Linked DNA regions of Homo sapiens. The protein of the gene in region 1 purifies or fractionates together with the protein of each later gene. This does not show direct contact. Each region holds a gene or a part of one and is shown on either strand. Other genes may lie near its edges. The genes, in order: PRPF38B, KNOP1, SRFBP1 and ODF2.

What was found.
Region 2: the proteins of PRPF38B (region 1) and KNOP1 purify together in Homo sapiens (affinity purification with mass spectrometry, with the first as the bait; one large-scale study listed by BioGRID). This does not show direct contact.
Region 3: the proteins of PRPF38B (region 1) and SRFBP1 purify together in Homo sapiens (co-immunoprecipitation; one large-scale study listed by IntAct). This does not show direct contact.
Region 4: the proteins of PRPF38B (region 1) and ODF2 purify together in Homo sapiens (co-immunoprecipitation; one large-scale study listed by IntAct). This does not show direct contact.

What each region holds. Positions count from the first base shown.
Region 1 is NC_000001.11:108,697,574-108,703,581, reverse strand, and holds the end of PRPF38B (pre-mRNA-splicing factor 38B), read right to left. Parts: exon of another isoform or gene 5,773-6,008; coding exon of another isoform or gene 5,733-5,772; exon of another isoform or gene 5,725-5,732; coding exon of another isoform or gene 5,719-5,724; exon of another isoform or gene 5,565-5,718; intron 4,979-5,564; coding exon 4,755-4,978; intron 4,421-4,754; coding exon 3,562-4,420; 3' UTR 654-3,561; downstream 1-653. UniProt on the Homo sapiens protein: May be required for pre-mRNA splicing.
Region 2 is NC_000016.10:19,707,648-19,711,727, forward strand, and holds part of KNOP1 (lysine-rich nucleolar protein 1), read right to left. Parts: intron 3,794-4,080; coding exon 3,725-3,793; intron 2,940-3,724; coding exon 2,862-2,939; intron 1-2,861.
Region 3 is NC_000005.10:121,960,503-121,964,774, reverse strand, and holds the start of SRFBP1 (serum response factor-binding protein 1), read right to left. Parts: upstream 2,801-4,272; 5' UTR 2,743-2,800; coding exon 2,707-2,742; intron 1-2,706. UniProt on the Homo sapiens protein: May be involved in regulating transcriptional activation of cardiac genes during the aging process. May play a role in biosynthesis and/or processing of SLC2A4 in adipose cells.
Region 4 is NC_000009.12:128,465,078-128,469,505, reverse strand, and holds part of ODF2 (outer dense fiber protein 2), read right to left. Parts: intron 582-4,428; exon of another isoform or gene 324-581; coding exon 153-323; intron 1-152. UniProt on the Homo sapiens protein: Seems to be a major component of sperm tail outer dense fibers (ODF).

The DNA.
Region 1 (6,008 bases):
GCTGGGATTACAGGCGTGCACCACCACACCCGGCGTATTTTGTATTTTGTATTTTGATTTTTTGAGACGGAGTCTTGCTCTGTCAACCAGGCTGGAGTGCAGTGGCGTGATCTCAGCTCACTGCAACCTCTGCCTCCTGGTTTCAAGGGATTCTCCTACCTCAGCCTCCCAAGTAGCTGAGACTACAGGCATACACCACCACACCCGGCTAATTTTTGTATTTTTATTAGAAACGGGGTTTCACTGTGTTAGCCAGGCTGGTCTCGAACTCCTGACCTTGTGATCTGCCCGCCTTGGCCTCCCAAAGTGCTGGGATTACAGGCATGAGCCACCACACCCGGCCCGTATTTTCCACTTTTTAGTAGACATGGGGTTTCAGCATGTTGGCCAGGCTGGTCTCAAACTCCTGACCTCAGGTGACCTACTGGCCTCGGACTCCCAAAGTGCTGGGATTACAGATGTGAGCCACTGCACCTAGTGGGGTACTTTTTTTTAGACAGGATGGTAGCTTTCATCAGATTACTAAAAAGTGGGCCCAGAACTCAAAACAACCATTGCCTTAGAGGAACTGAGGAACTAAATCAGAGTTAGGAGATAAAAACAGGGCAATATTAAAATGAACACTTTATATTAAAAGTTTAAGATTGATGATATACTCGCCCATGTATAGAATTTAATTGCAAATTGAACATTAAAAACAGGCAAAAGATTTTAATACATGGAAAGGTGAAATCATTCCAGTAAGTACAAAAACTGGATGGAGGATGCTTATTAAGCTGTATTAAAAATTTTTTTAAATTATACTTTAAGTTCAGATACATGTGCAGAACGTGCCGGTTTGTTACCTAGATATACATGTACCTTGGTGGTGAGCTGCACCCATCAACCTGTCATCTACATTAGGTATTTCTCCTAATATTATCCCTCCCCTAGTCCCCCACCCCACAACAGGCCCCGGCGTGTGATGTTCGTGTCCAAATGTTCTCATGTTTCAAGAAATGTGAGATGTCTTTCATAGCCACTTGTTTTCCCAGTTTCTTAGGAAGCCACTCTCCAAATAAATCATGCATATATATAGCAATAACTAGCACAATTTACATGTTCTCACACCTACCATAATTTTCCTCAAAAGCAAACATATTTAAAAATCGTAAGAAGGGACTGGAGTGGTGGCTCACACCTGTAATCACAGCGCTTTGGGAGGCTGAGGTGGGTGGATCACTTGAGGCCAGGAGTTCAAGACCAGCCTGGGCAACATGGCGAAATCCCAACCCTACCAAAAATACAAATTAGCCGGGTGTGCTAGCATGCACCTGTGGTCCCAGCTACTTAGGAGGCCAAGTTCGGAGGATCACTTGAGCCAGGGAAGTGGAGGCTGCAGTGAGCAGAGATTGCACCACTGCACTCCAGTCTGGGTGACAGAGCCAGGCCCGTCTCAAAACAAAAACAAACTAAAAACCCACAAGAAATCAAATGTAGTGACGATCATCGAACTGTCAATCGAGGTGATAGTTCTTTCACCTCCATGTGAAGTAATTTAAATTCTTTCCACATTTTACTTAAAATAGTCAGATAAAACATTTCACATGGAACCATATCCAAAGTAGTAGCTCCATAATTTAGGTATGCTAAAAGTAGATTTTCAACACAAGACAAATTTAGTGGCTTTCATATTATACAATAGGTTTTTCTAACTTCTGGGTGTCTATAGCACTAATTCACTTGATGCTCAATTTAAAAGACAAAGGAATTTTCTTAAAAAAGAAAAAAGCATATCATTTTTAGAAGAATTCATTTAATGAGATTTTTCTAAAATGGAGTGGTACATATGTTAAGCCCACATATGGAGGACTCTTGCAAGTGTACTCGTTTGCTCCATTTAACATTTTTGCAAGGTGGCTTCTGAGTGCGCATTAGTTGGCCAGTATAACCAGTGAGATAAAACAAACCTCAATGTGCGTGCCAGGTTCACTACACTGTCAGAATACTGAGTTTTAGCCCTAGCACTGACATCATTACTTTGGGCCTCTATTTTCTTTTCTAAAAAGAATTGGGTGAATTATCTTAAAGAATTTCAAGTCCAAATTTTAAAAAATGCTAACATATTGTCCAAGTAAAAGGTATCCCAATAAACGTCTTTGACATGGAACAAAGTAATCAAATGACACATGTAACAACCACTGACAAAGGGAACTGCCATTATCAAGTATTCTAATAAAGATTATTGATTACCACATGCCCAATCCCAGTCTATGCATTTCTCCAAAATTCACTTGTCATCTGGGCACTAAGACATCCCTGTACACAAAGTGTGACTCTACTGACGTTTCATCAATTTCCACAATATAAATATGCTAAAAAAATTTAACAAATGGGGGAAAAGCCAAGACCCAGGATAAAGGATTTAATCCAGTATTTATTCCACACTCATGATGGTTCTGTAATCAGAATACAAGTTGTAAGAACAATCTATCAAATAATTTGCTGATAGTCTTAAATAATGCAGCACAGCATTACTTTTAATACTCCTCTGTTCTAGATTAAGTTTAAAAACTCAAACAGCAATCTCCATTATCAATAAAAAAAGTTCTGAATTTTAAAAAAAGGACACTATATCAAGCTGTTTCATAATTTAAGGATTTTCCATTTATAAAAATGCTTTGGAAGCTTGAGGCTTGAATCTGTTTCTCTACTCATCTGCCCCACCCTCTCCCCATTACATGTTAGTATAGGGTTCTGCAAGAATGCTAGGCTTTAGACATTAATTTTTTTCTTTAATATAGTACTTTAAAATCTGAGAAAGAATTCAAGAAAAAAAGATTACATGTCATGTATTTTTTCAAATAAAAAAGGAAAACTAAGTGAATAAATTTTAGGCATACTAAGTGTCCCTTTGAGGTAGAATGCTAAAAGGACTTTTGATGAAATCACAGCCTAAAAACCTCTGCATCAGAAACTAACTTCTCATAAATTCTCTCTAAAGGTAACTGTGGAGAATATTAAGTGTAACATATTAACAAGAGCCTTCCAAGATAATATACAGTAGACAAGAATGTTAATCCTACAATGCTGCCTTCTTGTACATTGGCAGCACATACTTCTCCTATAATAGACATCCAAGATCCATTCTCAAAGTCTTTAGCATTCTATTACGAAAAGCACAGCCATGCTAACTTCAGTACACAAACCATAATCCCACACCTACAAAACAAAAATAGATTAGTGGCAGTTTATTGCCTTATACAAATTTAACCAACATGGCAACCATGCCAAAGGAATTAAAACATTTTCAGGACATATGTACAGACTGTACATTTCAAAAACAAACAATAAAAATGCAAGAACAATCTGTGCATCATGTATCAAACTTAACAATTGGGTGAAAACACCAATGCAATAAATGGAATTACAAAGGCACTTCCCTACACGAAAGAGGAAATGAAAATGCAGCCTACAGGGAGAGCTTGAGGAGTGCGAACTACTGCACAATCTCAACGTGGGGGAAAAAAGCAGATTTAATCATTTATAGGATTCAATGTGATCCACTTTTACAAAATATTTTCACACAGTCTCATCTTTGTTTTTATGCTGTTTTTCTTGGCTCTCTTGTTCTATACTTTGGCTCCTTCGACGATCATGTTTGTCTGACTGGTCCTTACTATCACTGTGATCTCGTTTGTGGGAACGTTCTTTGCTTCTACTACGCTTTCTAGATTTTTCTTTGCTGGGACTATGTTCCCGTTTTTTTGATTTTTCAACACTGTCAGTTCTTCCTTGACTGCCACTTCGACTTCGTTTATTTGATTTTTCTTTACTTTCATTTTTATGTTTACTTGATTTCTCTTTGCTTCTACTTCTACTTCGTTTCCCTGCATTTCTACTTCGACTCCTACTTCTGTGTTTCCTTTCTCTGCTTCTGCTTCTACTGTGTTTTTTCTCTTTCTTGGAATCTCTTTTGTCATCTCTGTGCCGCCTATCATCTTTGTCTTCTTTATGTTTCTTCTCTTCTACCTCTCCCCTACTTCTCTGTTCCTTGGACCTTTCTCTTGATCGCTCTCTCTCTTTTTCTCGTTCATTTCCTCTTTCCTTATCATAGTCACGATCTCGTCTTCTACCTCTCTCATTTTCTTTCTCTCTTTCTCGATCCCTGTCCCTTCTATCCCCTTTCCTATCACGACTTCGACTGCGACTTCTATGCCTTTCCCTACTTCTGCTGCGCCTGCGTTCTAACCCCCGGTCAATACTTCGGGATCTTCGCCGTTCTTTCTCCCTTTCTTTGGCTTCACGCTCTAGTCGCTGGCGTTCTTTCTCTCTTTCTAATTCTCTGTCAAAACTAGAAGACCCATGGCCCTCCCGATGATGACTTCTACTTCTTGACCTTCTTGGGGACCTCCGTGGACTCAGAGATCTCCTTGGAGACCTAAGGAAGGCGGAGGGAGAAAGAAAATTTCAATGAATAAAACATATGCAATTCTTTTCACAGTAAAACTTTCAACAGCATTATTTATTCATGTCCTCAAGCTTAAGGCCATGTCAAGAATCATTAAAGCAAAAAATTTTATTGTTCTCATTTACAGATGCATAATTTTATAGAAAAAGCCCTGAAAGGAAGAAAATAATCTTTGGGGGGTAAAAGTGACAAACTAATAAAATGAACAGTAAAAACAAATTCCTAAGAACTTGCTATTTCTCAGAACCATTAATTTTGTATAAAGCATATATGAAAAATAAGCATAATTCAAGAGTGACATTACCTTGAACGTCTGCGTTCAACATGTCTGTCTATTTCCTCAGCACCTTCCTTCCCATCTTTCTTGATTTTTCTAGGTCGGGTTTTAATCTGTTGATCAATATTCTTTTGAACTGGAACTGGAATTCTTGGAAACAAGGTAGAAAACCACTCCAGTTTTGTGAGAAAAGATCGTAGCATTTCTCCAATGGTCATTACACAGCCTCCACCAGCCTTCACATCTAGGTCCTACAGAAACACAAAAGATACCCTAGCCGTCAAAAAAAGTATTTCCATATATACATGAATATTATAAAAATATTACCATCTTTGGAATCTCAATACAAAAAAAACTAACAGAAAAATTTTATTTTCATATCCTGATCTGACAATGAATGAACAGAAATATTTGGGCTTAGTGTGTGCATGCAAGTGAGAACAAACCCTGCAGCCTCACAGGCATAAAGGGAACTGATCTCACTCAGTTAACAATATGAAAAAGCCCCTTACATTTCTAAACTATGCGGAACGATTGACTTAAATTTACATTCCACATACCTACTATGTATTTATTTCTGTGGACATATTTGCACACATCATATACCTTGCACCATAACCTAGCTACATATGATCTACTTTAGATAATTCCTGTCTAAAGGTTATCTTTTAACAGCTCTAATATAAAATGAAGCCCTAATAAAACTGGAAGCAATAGCAAACCAACTGCCATGAAGCAGTGAGGTTTCTAATTTAGTTATGTAGAAAATAAATAAATGAACAAATAATTGGAAACGCATAATCCATGATGACCATTGTCTCTGAAAAGGGTCATTACCGCATGAAGGCCTTCTTGCTATGCCCTCTCACAGCTCAGGACATGTTAGTCAGCTATTGTCAGTCCCAAACCTATAGTGCAAGCACACAAGGAAAGTGAGATTTGTTATCTAAACAGGAAAACAAGAGCTAAAGGTAAAACTGCTTGCACTCACACACATTTAAGTGTTCAGATATACAGTATTTCCAAATATAATCGCTGCAGATATCTAAGGAAGAAAACAATAAGTTAGCTTAAATAGAGGACCTCAGATTTGTAAACACAATAAAAAACATAAAATAGAGGCATCCAGAAACAAAACCAATACAACACCAATTATGAAGAGGAACATGCTTTTTTAAAGACAGAAGGGAGAAGCACTTCAGTCTGAAAAACTGATCTAAAGATAAAAAGACCTTAAAGATTGTGATTTAAAACACGTTTTGCTTCTTCTGAGTGAAGTAA
Region 2 (4,080 bases), on another chromosome or scaffold:
TACACAGTGCACCTCCCCTCCCCCACCTCCCTACACAGCACACTCCCCCACCACTCTACAGAGCACACTCCCCCCACGACCCTACACAGAGCACTCCCCCCACCTCCCTACACGGCGCACATGGCGCACCTCCTCCCACCACGCTACACAGCACACTCTCCCCCTACCATCCTACAAAGCGCACCTCCCCTAACCACGCTACACAGTGCACTCCCCCCACCACCCTACACATCGCACTCCCCCCACCTCCCTACACAGCACACTCCCCCACCTCCCTACATAGCACTTCCCCCACTCCCTATACAGCGCACCTCCCCCCACCTCCCTACACAGCGCACCTCACCCCACCATGCATCTCACAAGACAGCACACCTCCCCCACCTCCCCACAGGGCGCACCTCCCCTGCAACACAGGGCACCCCACAGCCCAGCAGCCGGGCGCACTCACCCAGCAGCCTAACGTTTGGGTGAATTGGAGGGTGGGAGAGGGCGAGTGGGAATCTGAAGTGTGCTTCTCAGAAGCACTGTTTTATGGCGGGAACGGGTGCGGGCCCACAGGGGTAAAAGGTCACACAGCCAAGTCAGACTGAGCCAAGCCCAAGAACTCGGGGGTCCCCATTCCAGCCAGAGTGCGCTACCACCCATGTGCAAGAAAATGCAGGAGAGCCCTCCAGACCCCCTTCTCCCAGGTCGGTGGGAGAGGAAAGAAACTCACCTCCCAAGAAGACTGTGACTCGGAAGTCAGGCAGCCCCGGGAGGAAGCCTCCCCTGGGTGACCCTGCTCAAGTCCCCTAACCTCTCTAAGCCTTGGTGCCCTCATCTCTAAGGTGGGGTGATAACATCCCCCTCACAGGGCTTCAGTGAGACATACGTCAGATTTGACACCAAAAGCCCAGTGCACGATGCATGGCACACCTCAAGCCCTCAGTGACTGGCCACTCCTCTCCCCCTACCCCAACCAGACTGCTGACATCGACGCTGCCTGGGAACTTCCCGCCCACAAGCCAGAGGCCAGCCCAGCACTTATTTCTGGGTTGGCTTTGGGAAAATAAGAACCAGTTGTCACTACAGCTGCCCTGAGTGAACCGGTGACACATTCTCCCAGCTTCATGGTGGCCCAGATGCAGGAATAATGACAGCTCCCCTGCCCTGCAGTTTCTAGAGTGAGAGGCCATCTATGACCACCCCACATGGGTTTTGGGGAGAGCAGGAGACTGCTAGCTGGTCCTGCGTGAACCAGCACTTCCAACGGCTGCTGCCCACCCAGAGGACCACTTCACCACGTCTCAGTGGCATGGCATGTCCCAGCCCCTGTGCCCCAGGATCACTCTCCTGCCGTCAGGTCCTTCCAGGGACAGCCCCCCGGGACATCGGCTCCGAATCACACTGCCTTTTTTCTTGCCCTCCCTATTCAAGCTGGATGTCCCATCAGCTCGGCTCAGCTCAGCAGGGTGGCATGGAGAGAAAGGGCACCCCAAGGCAGGACCCATAACAAAGCCCCACTCCATACCCCACCAGGCCAGGGTACGAGTCCCATTTTACAGGCTCAGGGGAAGGTACCTGGCCAGAGTCCCACCACTAGACAGTGGCAGAGCCAGTAGTGAAATCAGATCTTTTGATCCGAATCGACTGTTCTTTTCTGAATGCTCTGACGGAGCCTGAAGGCCAGCATCGCTGGTCACCCAGACCTTTCTTCTCGTCTCCCCAAAATCCAATCTATGAACAAGTCCTGCCAGCTGTGCCTCCAAAGTAAATCACAAAGCTGTTTTCTCTCTCTATCCTCTGCCACCATCCTCAGGCTGCGGCCTGCAGGCTGAGCCTTCTACCAGGTCTTCCCGCTTGCCGAGTCAATGCCCTCCAGCCAATCCCACTTAGCCAGATCCCAGGCCAGCTCTCTATCATGGCCGCTGAGGCCGAGGCCTGTGGCCTGTAGCCCTCTCGTCCCTCATTCCAGCCGCAGTGCCGCCTCACTGGCCTTCCCTACAGATCACTCCAGGCCCTTTCCTACCTTAGGGGTCTGCACCGGCCACTGGCCTCACTGAAACGCTCTTCCCCCTGTCTCCTGAGGGCTGGGGCCTCTGCACCCTGAACATCTCTGGACAAGCGCTGCCACCTCCCAGCCCTCGCCCATCTGTTGCAGCCCCTCTCCAGCTCACTGTTCTGTTTCTTTCTCCTGACCGCTACTGCCACCTCAACTGATCTTCCTTTCCTTGTTTGCTAACCATTTCCCTGCCATGCTCACCCCGCTCTGGCCTCTAGACCGTGAGCGCGATGATGGGGATCACATGGGCTTCATCTGCTCCATGTCCAGCACCCAGCACAGAGCCCCCACTGAACTCCGCCAGGGCCCCAGCCTGACAACCTCACACTCTCCAGCCTCATGATCCTCGCACCCTCCTCCCTCCTGAGAGATCTTCTCAGGCCCGGCTTGGACATTTCCCAGTCAGACTGGATCTGAAAACCAGGCCTGAGAGGGGCCGCGACCACTCCCTCCCCTCTGCCTCTTGTCCCTGTTCCTAGCAGCCCTCCAAAGGCATCGTCCACCACTGGCAAGAGCTCGCTGGAATGTGTCCTCAGTGATTAATCCTTAGGACACCCCACCAGTCCAGGGCTGAGACAAAGGTTCAGGCAGCTTATCTCACCGGGCCAGCTCTCTAGGAGGGAGGCAAGCGCCCTTTTCAGAAGGAAGGAAATTAGCTCAGGACAAATTCTGCTGTGGAGGGAGCCTGCTGCAGGCTAGGGCTGCCTCTGGGGCCTGGACATACTTGGTTCTCCTGCTCCACTCCTCATGCTGGAGGCGAGGGGAAGCGTCGGGAGGCCGAGCGTGCCACCTCCTCGCAGAGCCCTAGCCCCAAACTTACCGTCCACTTCCTGGTTTCAGAAGCTTCCGTTTTGCCTGACTCGCGATCGATCTCTTCTTGCAAGGCCTTTCGCCTCACCTGAGCAAGAAGGATGACAGAAGAGGGCCGTCAGACAGAGATCTTCTTTCAAGCTTAAAACCCAGGACAGAGACGGGGCTGGGGGAACGGAACGTGGGAGGAACTAACACAGCTTGACTCTGCTACAAACAATGGGAAGCTGCTATCATAAGTATTCTCTTAGCATCTCAAGGGCTGCGCCCCTTGGCCTACACTGGGCAGGCTCATTTATCCTCTTTAGCCTCTTAAGAATGAATTTTCCTAGAAACTGAGGCTTAAGAGCTTGCAGTGAGCCAAGATCACGCCACGGCACTCCAGCCTGGGGGACAGAGTGAGACTCCGTCTCAAAAAAAAAAAAAAAAAAAAAAAATCCCCAAGGCCAGAAAGTCCACTTCCCACAGGGATGCATTTGCCACGGGATATGGGAACGACAGAAGCGGAAGCTGATTCACAACAAAACTTCTCCTCTAAATGCTCCTGAATTAGCCCAGGGGGTGGCAGCATGTGTCACCTGCCCAGCTGCAGGGTCTTAGGGACATGTCCCCCACATCCTGCAGCAAGTAACAGGGAATGGCCAGTCGGGCCTCTCGGCCATGGCCACGGCAGCCGGAAGGGCCCCCAGCATGAGGATGGGGAAAGCACGCATTCCCGGCCCGGGAGGTGTGCGTTGGCAGCTGGCCCAGTGGCCTCTGGAGTCCCTGGTGCCCCTGAGACCAGGATCACCTAGCCAGCCTGGCAGGCAGCAAGTGAGACTCCAAGGGTGGCAGGAGGCAGCGGGAGGGGCCTGAGGAGGGTCTGGGCTGTACCTGGTCTATGTGCGCCTCATCCATGTTGCCTTTTTTTTCCAACACCACCTCTAAGTCCGTGTCTGTTTCCTGCAGGAGAGGGCAGAGCTGGCTAAGGTTCAAGTTTACAATGAATGGCCTCTGCCTCTGCACCCAGCCAGGGTGAGACCATGACAAAGTCCAGAAAAGACCTCAGACCACGGCATCACCCCCAGCCCTGCCACCTAGAAACATCTCAGTCAGCAAAGCCCTTCCCATCCCTTCTCTTCCACAATTCTCCCGCAAAACAGTAGTACTAAACTATTTGACGGATGAAGAAACTGAGACTCAGACAGGTAAAGTGACTACAAGGTTACCCCACGGCTCAGGGACTGGTG
Region 3 (4,272 bases), on another chromosome or scaffold:
AGACAGTGTGGTGATTCCTCAAGGATCTAGCAATAGAAATACCATTTGACCCAGCAATCCCATTATTGGCTATATACCTAAGGATTATAAATCATTCTACTACAAAGGCACATGCACATGTATGTTTATTGTGGCACTGTTTACAACAGCAAAGACTTTGAACCAACCCAAATGCCCATCAATGATAGACTGGATAATGAAAATGCGGCACATATACACCATGGAATACTATGCAGCCATAAAAAATGATGAGTTCATGTCCTTTGCAGGGACATGGATGATGCTGGAAACCATCATTCTCTGCAAAGCAACACAAGAACAGAAAACCAAACACTGCATGTTCTCACTCATAAGTTTGAGTTGAACAATGAGAACACATGGACACAGGGAAGGGAACATCACACACCAAGGCCTGTCGGGTGGGGGGAAAGGGGGAGGGATAGCATTAGGAGAAATACCTAATGTAGACGACAGGTTAATGGGTGCAGTAAACCACCATGGCACATGTATACCTATGTAACAAACTTGCACGTTCTGCACATGTACCCCAGAACTTAAAGTATACATATAAAAAAAAAAGATTAAAGTTTGAGAAGAGTCAATGTAAGTAGTTGGGAAGCTAGTACAGTAGCTGTACTAGGATTCTAGTGGTGATGGAAAAGAATTGAAAAGATTGAAAGCGAATTCAAATTATTTTTCAGATACATTTCCTCCTTGAAGAAGTTAATTCATTTCTTCTGCCTATTTTCTGAGATGGTTTCTTTTAATTTCTATGAGGTATTTCCTATTAAGGGCATTAGCCCTTTGTCATATCTGCTGTATTTTTTTTTTCTAGTTGGTTGTCATTTCTTTTCTTTGGTAGGTTATTCAATTTTTATGTAGATAAATCTCTCTTTCCTTTTGTGGGTTTTTTTTCCCACTAATTTTAAATTATAATATCCTCCATCATCTCCACTTTTTTCTGTCCTTTTTATCTCCTTCACATTAGAACACACTAGACTTCAGTGGTGGATGTGTGTAGTTCCTGCTTTCACAAATTCATGTAATCACCTAGTAAACATATGTGCTACACATGATAGACACATAAACACAGGAAGACAGAAACAGTTACATAAGTGTTTCCAGAGGAGAAAGCAATCTGGGTGCACAAAGAACAGACACCTAACCCAGACCGAGAGGAGTTAATGAAGGTTTCCTAAAGGTCAAATTTTAACTGTTTTGAAGAAGAACAAAAGTTAGCTAAGTGTGAAAAGAGTCTTTAATGACTCATCCCCTGTCATTTCCATCATCAAAGTCATTACAAAATTTGATATGAAGCTCCCTGGGGTTGAAATCCCAGGGACATTACTCTGATCTTTCATACATCACAGGTAACCTAATGCAAAATAGCCCACCAAACGCTTTCTGGCACAAAGCACAAGCTTAATGTATGTTTATGAGTAAATAGTAACTACTTTCAGCTTCCCTCTTCAGCATATCCTGTACTCCACTGTCAACTGAAATCCTGACTCGTTAATCTGGCAGCAGAGAATATATTTCAGTTTTATTTCCTTCTTCATCTCACAAGTTCCCATCAGTGAAGAGTTACTTATCCCTGTATTACCCACGGGTTCTTCTGCTACTAGCCCTTTCCTGCTTATACCAGTCCCTCTGCCTGGAATGACTTCTTCCCCTTTCCTGAATCACTGACTGCAATTCCTGTGCAAGATCCCTAAAGACCAAGGACAAGTATCACCCATTTCATTTTGCCGCCTTTGGAAACTTTTCTGCATTACTAGGTTTTGGAGGCATTCTTCACACATTGTTCTGTAACACAGGTGAGTGTTGCTTAGCTCTCTTACTTGAGTATAGGTTACTAGAAAATATGAAATATCCCTTACACTACTGTGTGTAATCTAAACAGTGACTTGCTCATAAACGGGATAAAGAATTTCCTTTCTGTATCTAACTGTGAGGTCCTTACTCGATCCTTATGTTTCCAGCTTACTTTAAGACTTTGGATGACATTATTTTGTTGAATAGAAGCAGAAACCAGAGGGGGATAAGTGGTAGAAATGGTATTTTGTCGACACCGCACACTATGGAAGTGACGGTGGTGAGAACAAATGTCTGATGAGAATGGACTGAAAAAGCAGAAAAAAGAATTGAGGATAGCAAGTATAAACAGCTCTTTATTGAAGTTCTGCTGTAAACGGAAGCAAAGAAATAGGACACTAACTGGAAGAGGAAACGAAGTACTGAGCATACAGTCTCATTCAAGACCACCAATTTCTTAGAAGCTACAGCTCTTACTTTCTCTCTTTCATTTTCGACAGGCAATAAAGAGCAGGTAATGTGTACTGAAAGTTTATTAAGGGTCAGGCACTTGCAAATACTTTACGTATCTCAGTTAATCTCACAACCCTGGGACGAACTATCTTGAGTTCCGCTTTACAGACGAGAATATTGAACGTACAGGCTAAAGGTTCTTCCCAAAGTCCCACAGACATAAATTCGTGGGGCCTGACACATGTCTCTCACTTTAGTCACCTGGAGACCGAAAAGGGAAATTACCGGTTGCCAAACTCCAAGTTGCGGGAAACCCGCCTGGGCCCACCACGAAAGTTCCTCCAACCGCACCCTCTATGCCCGCCTCCGACCACGCGTCTCAAAAGAGCTGGTTTTGAGGACCCTTAAAGTCAGCCCCATAGGTTCCTCGGCGCTCACCTCGTTATTGAGGTTCAGAGTTCCCGGCTGAGCCATGGTAGATGAAGGAATATGATCCGCCGCTGCCTGCACGTGAACCGGTCTCTCAGACCGCGGCTGCGTCGCCACGCCCCTCAACGGAAGCCTCTTCTGTCCAAAACTCATCCGCCTTCTGCTCTAGCTGCCGCCTGGGAACAAGAAACATTGACGCTTGGAAGGGAAAACCGGAACTGAGACAGAACAACTACCGGCGCAGAGGGCTACGCAACGGAATTGCGCGTTCCTATGGAAACCAGACGGGGGCTGGTAGCTGGGCAACGTCTAGTTTTTCAAGATTCGGTTTGTGTGTGTGTGTGTGTGTGTGTGTGTGTGTGTGTGTGTGTGTGTGTGTTCCCTTGGTACACTGCGCTCGCATTGTACCGGCCTTGGTTTTTCTCTCTAATGGCTAGGGGGGCGCTGAACGGCGGTGAAAGAGCTCTTCTGAAATGATCACTTGAATGAACGATTTTTTGCTTCCATTTTTTTAAATCTAGTATTTGTGAAGATTTCTGCTTTTCTAACAAGCACACCTTTTTAAATCCTCGCAGTTTTTTGTTACAACCTGACATTATAGCTGAGGTGCGGACATTTTTTTCCTGCACACTATAGAAGGGTTTAAATTTAGGGAATAAACATTTGAAGCAAAACCAGGATACACATTTGGTACTGCCTGTGGGAATGGCTGTTTATTAGCCGGCAAGCATAGGAGACGTAAGGGAGTGTGTTTGAATTAGGTAATATATAATTGTCAACACCTTCTAGTATTGACCATTAAAATGTGTCAAATGGTGGTCCAAGAGCTTTACATAAATTAGCTCCAAATCTCCACAGAAATCCAACAAGATAGAAATTATTTTCCTTTTATTAATATTATTTTGTTAGAGACCCAGTCTCTCTTTGTCATCCAGGCTGGTGTGCAGTGGCACAGTCATAGCTCACTGCAGCCTCAAACTCTTGGGCTCAAGCCATCCTCTCACCTCAGCCTTCCAAATAACTAGGACTACAGGAGTGAGCCACCCTACTCTGCTCTGAACTATTATTTTACAGATGTGGAAAGTGACTTCAGAGGCACCAAGTGCCTCGCCCAGAGTCACTTGCCTGGGACTGTCCACTGCTACAGGACTTCAAGTCCAGCTACATAATACCTGGGGTACAGTGCAAAATGAAAATCCAGGCCCCTTTATTCAAAATGCAGGAAAAACGTTTCTTCCGGCGGAGGGTGGTGGCTCATGCCTGTAATCCCAGTACTTTAGGAAGCCTAGGCGGGCGGATCACCTGAGGTCGGGAGTTCGAGACCAGCCTGACCAACGTGGAGAAACCCCGTCTCTACTAAAAATACAAAATTAGCCGACCGTGGTGACGCATGCTTGTAATCCCAGCTACTCGGGAGGCTGAGGCAGGAGAATCACTTGAACCTGGGAGGCGGAGGTTGCCGTGAGCCAAGATCACTCCAGACTGGGCAACAAGAGTGAAACTTCGTCTCAAAAAAAAAAAAAAGTTTCTTCCATAGCGTCTCTTGACTCATCATGGTGTTTGTTAATTTACTAT
Region 4 (4,428 bases), on another chromosome or scaffold:
CCTCCCGGGGCAGGCAACTGAAGCCCGGGGCAACCCTGCAGAGGAGGCCTGAAGGCCTGCAGACGCAGGCTGAGGGACCAGGCAGGAAATCCACCTGGGTGCTCCTGCACATCCTCAGGGTAGTAGCTATCCCAGCCCCCTACCTCCCTCACCTCAGACTTCAGACAACCAACCGCATTCATTAGACTATCAATCTTCTTATCATAACGGTTCATTTTACAGTGACCTGAGTCATCATCTTCTGTAGAGAGGTCACTTAACCGCATCACTGAGACCAGCTTTTCTGAAGATGGTGGCGTGATCTCCAGGCAATGAGGTGGATTCTGATGTAGAGGAGGGAGAAACACATGAACTCAGAAGGCAGAACCTTGACCACGAGTTCCACCACTGGAGGCTTATTTACTGATTAGACGGGAAAAGCTGTAACAGCTAACTCGGGGACCCCAGGAAGAACATACTCTGAACCCTTGTGATGGAACATTACCTATCCATGTTTAAATGATGGTTTTGGAGAATTCCCAACATCAAAATTAAAAGCTTGGGCTACAATGTTAAGTTTAAAATAAAGAACATAGGCTGGATACCCTGTAAAACCAGTATATTGGGAGGCCGAGGCGGGAAGCCAAAACCAGCCTCAGCAACATAGCGAGACCTTGTCTCTATAAAAGTAAAAGAATTAGCTAGCGCTGGGCATGGTGGCTCACATCTGCAATCCCAGCGCTTTGGGAGGCTGAGGCGGGTGGATGACCAGAGGTCAGGAGTTTGAGACCAGCCTGACCAACACGGTGAAACCCCGTCTCTACTAAAAACACAAACTTAGCTGGACATGGTGGTGCATGCCTGTAATCTCAGCTATTCAGGAGGCTAAGGCTGGAGGATCGCTTGAACCCGGGAGGTAGAGGTTGCAGTGAGCCAAGATTGCGCCATTGCACTCCAGCCTGGGCAACAGAACGAAACTCCTTCTAAAAAAAAAAATCAGGTGGGTGTAGTGGCACATGCCTGTGATCTCAACTAATCAGGAGGCTGAGGCAGGGGATTCCTTGAGTCCAGGAGTTCAAGGCTGCAGTGAGCTATGATAGCACCACTGCATGCCAGCCTGGGTGACAGAGCGAAACCCTGTCTCTAAAAATAACAATACTCATAAAGAAATAATATAACAAATCAGCAAAAACATTAATAATACCCAAAGTTGGCAAAAGTTTAGGGCAGTACATTTTTTTATACCTAGGGTAGAAATGAAATATGTCAAAAGTCTTTTAAATGAATATGAATAGCTGATAGTGGATTAGTTACAAAGGTAGATGAATCTGCTGAAAAGGTATTGTAGAAACAAGTGGGTAAATTGGAAAAAGGACCAGATATTGTATGATATTAAGAAATGCTCTTAGGAGTAATCAGTTATTTTGATGATGTAGAAAAATATTATAAATGCACATGGTACAATACCTGGAAAGTATTGTATTAAAAAAATACAATACTTTTTAAATACGTCAGTATAAAAAATATTTTAGGGCCAGGAGCGGTGGCTCATGCCTGTAATCCCAGCACTTTGGGAGGCCAAGGCGGGCGGATCACGAGGTCAGGAGATCGAGACACTGAAACCCCGTGTCTACTAAAAATACAAAAAAATTAGCCGGGCGTGGTAGCAGGTGCCTGTAGTCTCAGCTTTTTAAATATTTTTTTAAATATTTTAAAATGCATATATGCTTCAGGAAACTTTATGCAAAGCTGTAAACACTTTGCTTTTTTTTTTTTTTTTTTGAGACAGGGTCTCACTCCATCGCCTAGGCTGGAGTGCAGTAGTGCCATCTCGGCTCACTGCAACCTCCGCCTCCCAGGTTCAAGCAATTCTCCTGCCTCAGCCTCCCGACTAGCTGGGATAACAGGCACCTACCACCATGCCCAGCTGATTTTTGTATTTTTAGTAGAGGTGGGGTTTCACCATGTTGGCCAGGCTGGTCTCGAACTCCTGACCTCAGGTGATAAGCCCGTCTTGGCCTCCCAAAGTGCTGGGATTTCAGGTATGAGCCACCACATCCAGGTATGTATATTACTTTTAGAAGAAAAGAAGTTACTTTTAATACTTAAAATGACAAAAATAGGAAAATGTATAAACAGTCATGTGCCACGTAACATTTCAGTCAGCAATGGACTGCATATATGACAGTGGTCCCAAAACACCGTATTTTTACCGTACCTTTTCTATATTTACTATGTTTCAATATGCAAATACTTACCATTGTGTTAGTTGCCTACAGTATTCTGTACGGCATCATGCTGTAGAGGTCTGTAGCCTAGGAGCAATAGGCTATACCATACAGCCCAGGTGTGTAGCAGGCTTTACCAATCTCGGTTTGTGTAAGTACACTCCATGATGTTTGCACAATGATGAAAGTGCCTAACAACATGTTTCTCAGAATATATCCCCATTGTTAATTGATATATGACTATATATATATATATATATATATATATATATATATATATATATTTTTTTTTTTTTTTTTTTTTTTTTTTTTTTTTTTAATTGAGATGGAGTCTCGCTCTGTCACCCAGGCTGGAGTGCAGTGGTGCAATCTCGGCTCACTGCAAGCTCCGCCTCCCAGGTTCACGCCATTCTCCTGCCTCAGCCTCCCGAGTAGCTGAGACTACAGGTGCCCGCCACCATGCCCGGCTAATTTTTTGTACTTTTAGTAGAGACGGAGTTTCACTGTGTTAGCCAGGATGGTCTCGATCTCCTGACCTTGTGATCCGCCCGCCTCGGCCTCCCAAAGTGTTGGGATTACAGGCGTGAGCCACCACGCCCGGCCACATGACTATATATTTTTTAAAATGACAAATATATATATATATATATATATGGGAAAGTGTGACTACTTACTCCTTGTGATGGGGAGGGAGTGACATAGACAAAAGCCAGGGGCAGCTTCTAGGATGCTGGGTGATCGTTACACAGGTACCTTCAGCTTGTGAAAATTCATGGAGCAATACACTTCTGATGGGTGTACATCCCTGCACTTTTCCATTTTTTTTTTTTTTGAGATGGGGTCTCACTCTGTCAAGCAGCCTGGAGTGCAGTAGCACAACTTTGGTTCACTGCAACCTCTGCCTCCCAGGCTCAACCCATCCTTACACCTCAGCCTCCCAAGTAGCTGGGACCACAAGTGCACACCACCACACTGGGCTAATTTTTTGTATTTTTGGTAGAGATACGGTTTCGTCACATTGTCCAAGCTGGTCTCCAACTCCTGAGCTCAGGTGAACCGCCTGCCTTAGCCTCCCAAAGTGCTGGGATTACAGGCGTGAGACACCAGGCCCGGCCAGTCCTCTTTTCGTTTTTCTTTTCCGTTTTTTTTGTTTTTTTTTTGAGATGGAGACTCGCTTTGTTGCCCAGGCTGCAGTGCAGGGGCGCGATCTTGGCTCCCTGCAACCTCCGCCTCATGGGCTTAAGCAATTCTCTTGCCTCAGCCTTCTGTGTAGCTGATATTGGTGGCGCGACCACCACGCCAGGGTAATTTTTGTATTTTTAGTAGAGACGGGGTTTCGCCATGTTGGCTAGGCTGGTCTCAAACTCCTGATCTCAGTTGATTTGCCTGCCTCGGCCTCCCAAAGTGCTGGGATTACAGGAGTGAGCCATTGCTCCTGGGCCTGTACTTTTCAACAAGAAATTTTGAAACTTAATAGCAGCCAGAATTGAGTAGCTGATTATTTTTCTGTATTTTCAAATTTCCCTAAATAAAAATAGATCACTTTTTTTTTTTTTTTTGAGACGGAGTCTCGCTCTGTCGCCAGGCTGGAGTGCAGTGGTGCAATCTCAGCTCACTGCAACCTCCGCCTCCAGGGTTCAAGCAATTCTCCTGCCTCAGCCTCCCAAATGGCTGGGCCTACAGGAGCGTGCCACCATGCCCAGCTAATTTTTGTATTTTTAGTTGAGATGGGGTTTCACCACGTTGGCCAGGATGGTCTCAATCTCTTGACCTCATGATCCGCCTGCCTTGGCCTCCCAAAGTGCTGAGATTACAGGCGTGAGCCACCGCGCCCGGCTGATCACTTTTAGTAATAGAGGCAAGAAAAAAACCTAGACCTTCTTTCTCCCAAAGCTGATCTTATATTCCAGGAGTTGTAAGATATCAAACAAGAACCCCACATGCATACAGCAGCTTTTGGTCTTCATTTCCATATCTTCCTCAAACTTCCACCTCCAGGGGCTGTTCCCCTTCCGTCCATGAAGGACAGGGTTGAGTTAGGGCCTCTCAGGGCCACAGGAAGCCACTGGCAAGTGGAAAGGGGCAGACACAAGAATGAAAGCAGAAAAGACAGCTACTGTTTCAGGTGCTGAGAGAACCTGGGCAGGCCACCTCTCTGGGACCTTCCACCTCTAGGATTTGGCAATGGGGCTGGAAGTGGCATTATGCTTTTCAGAGGGGA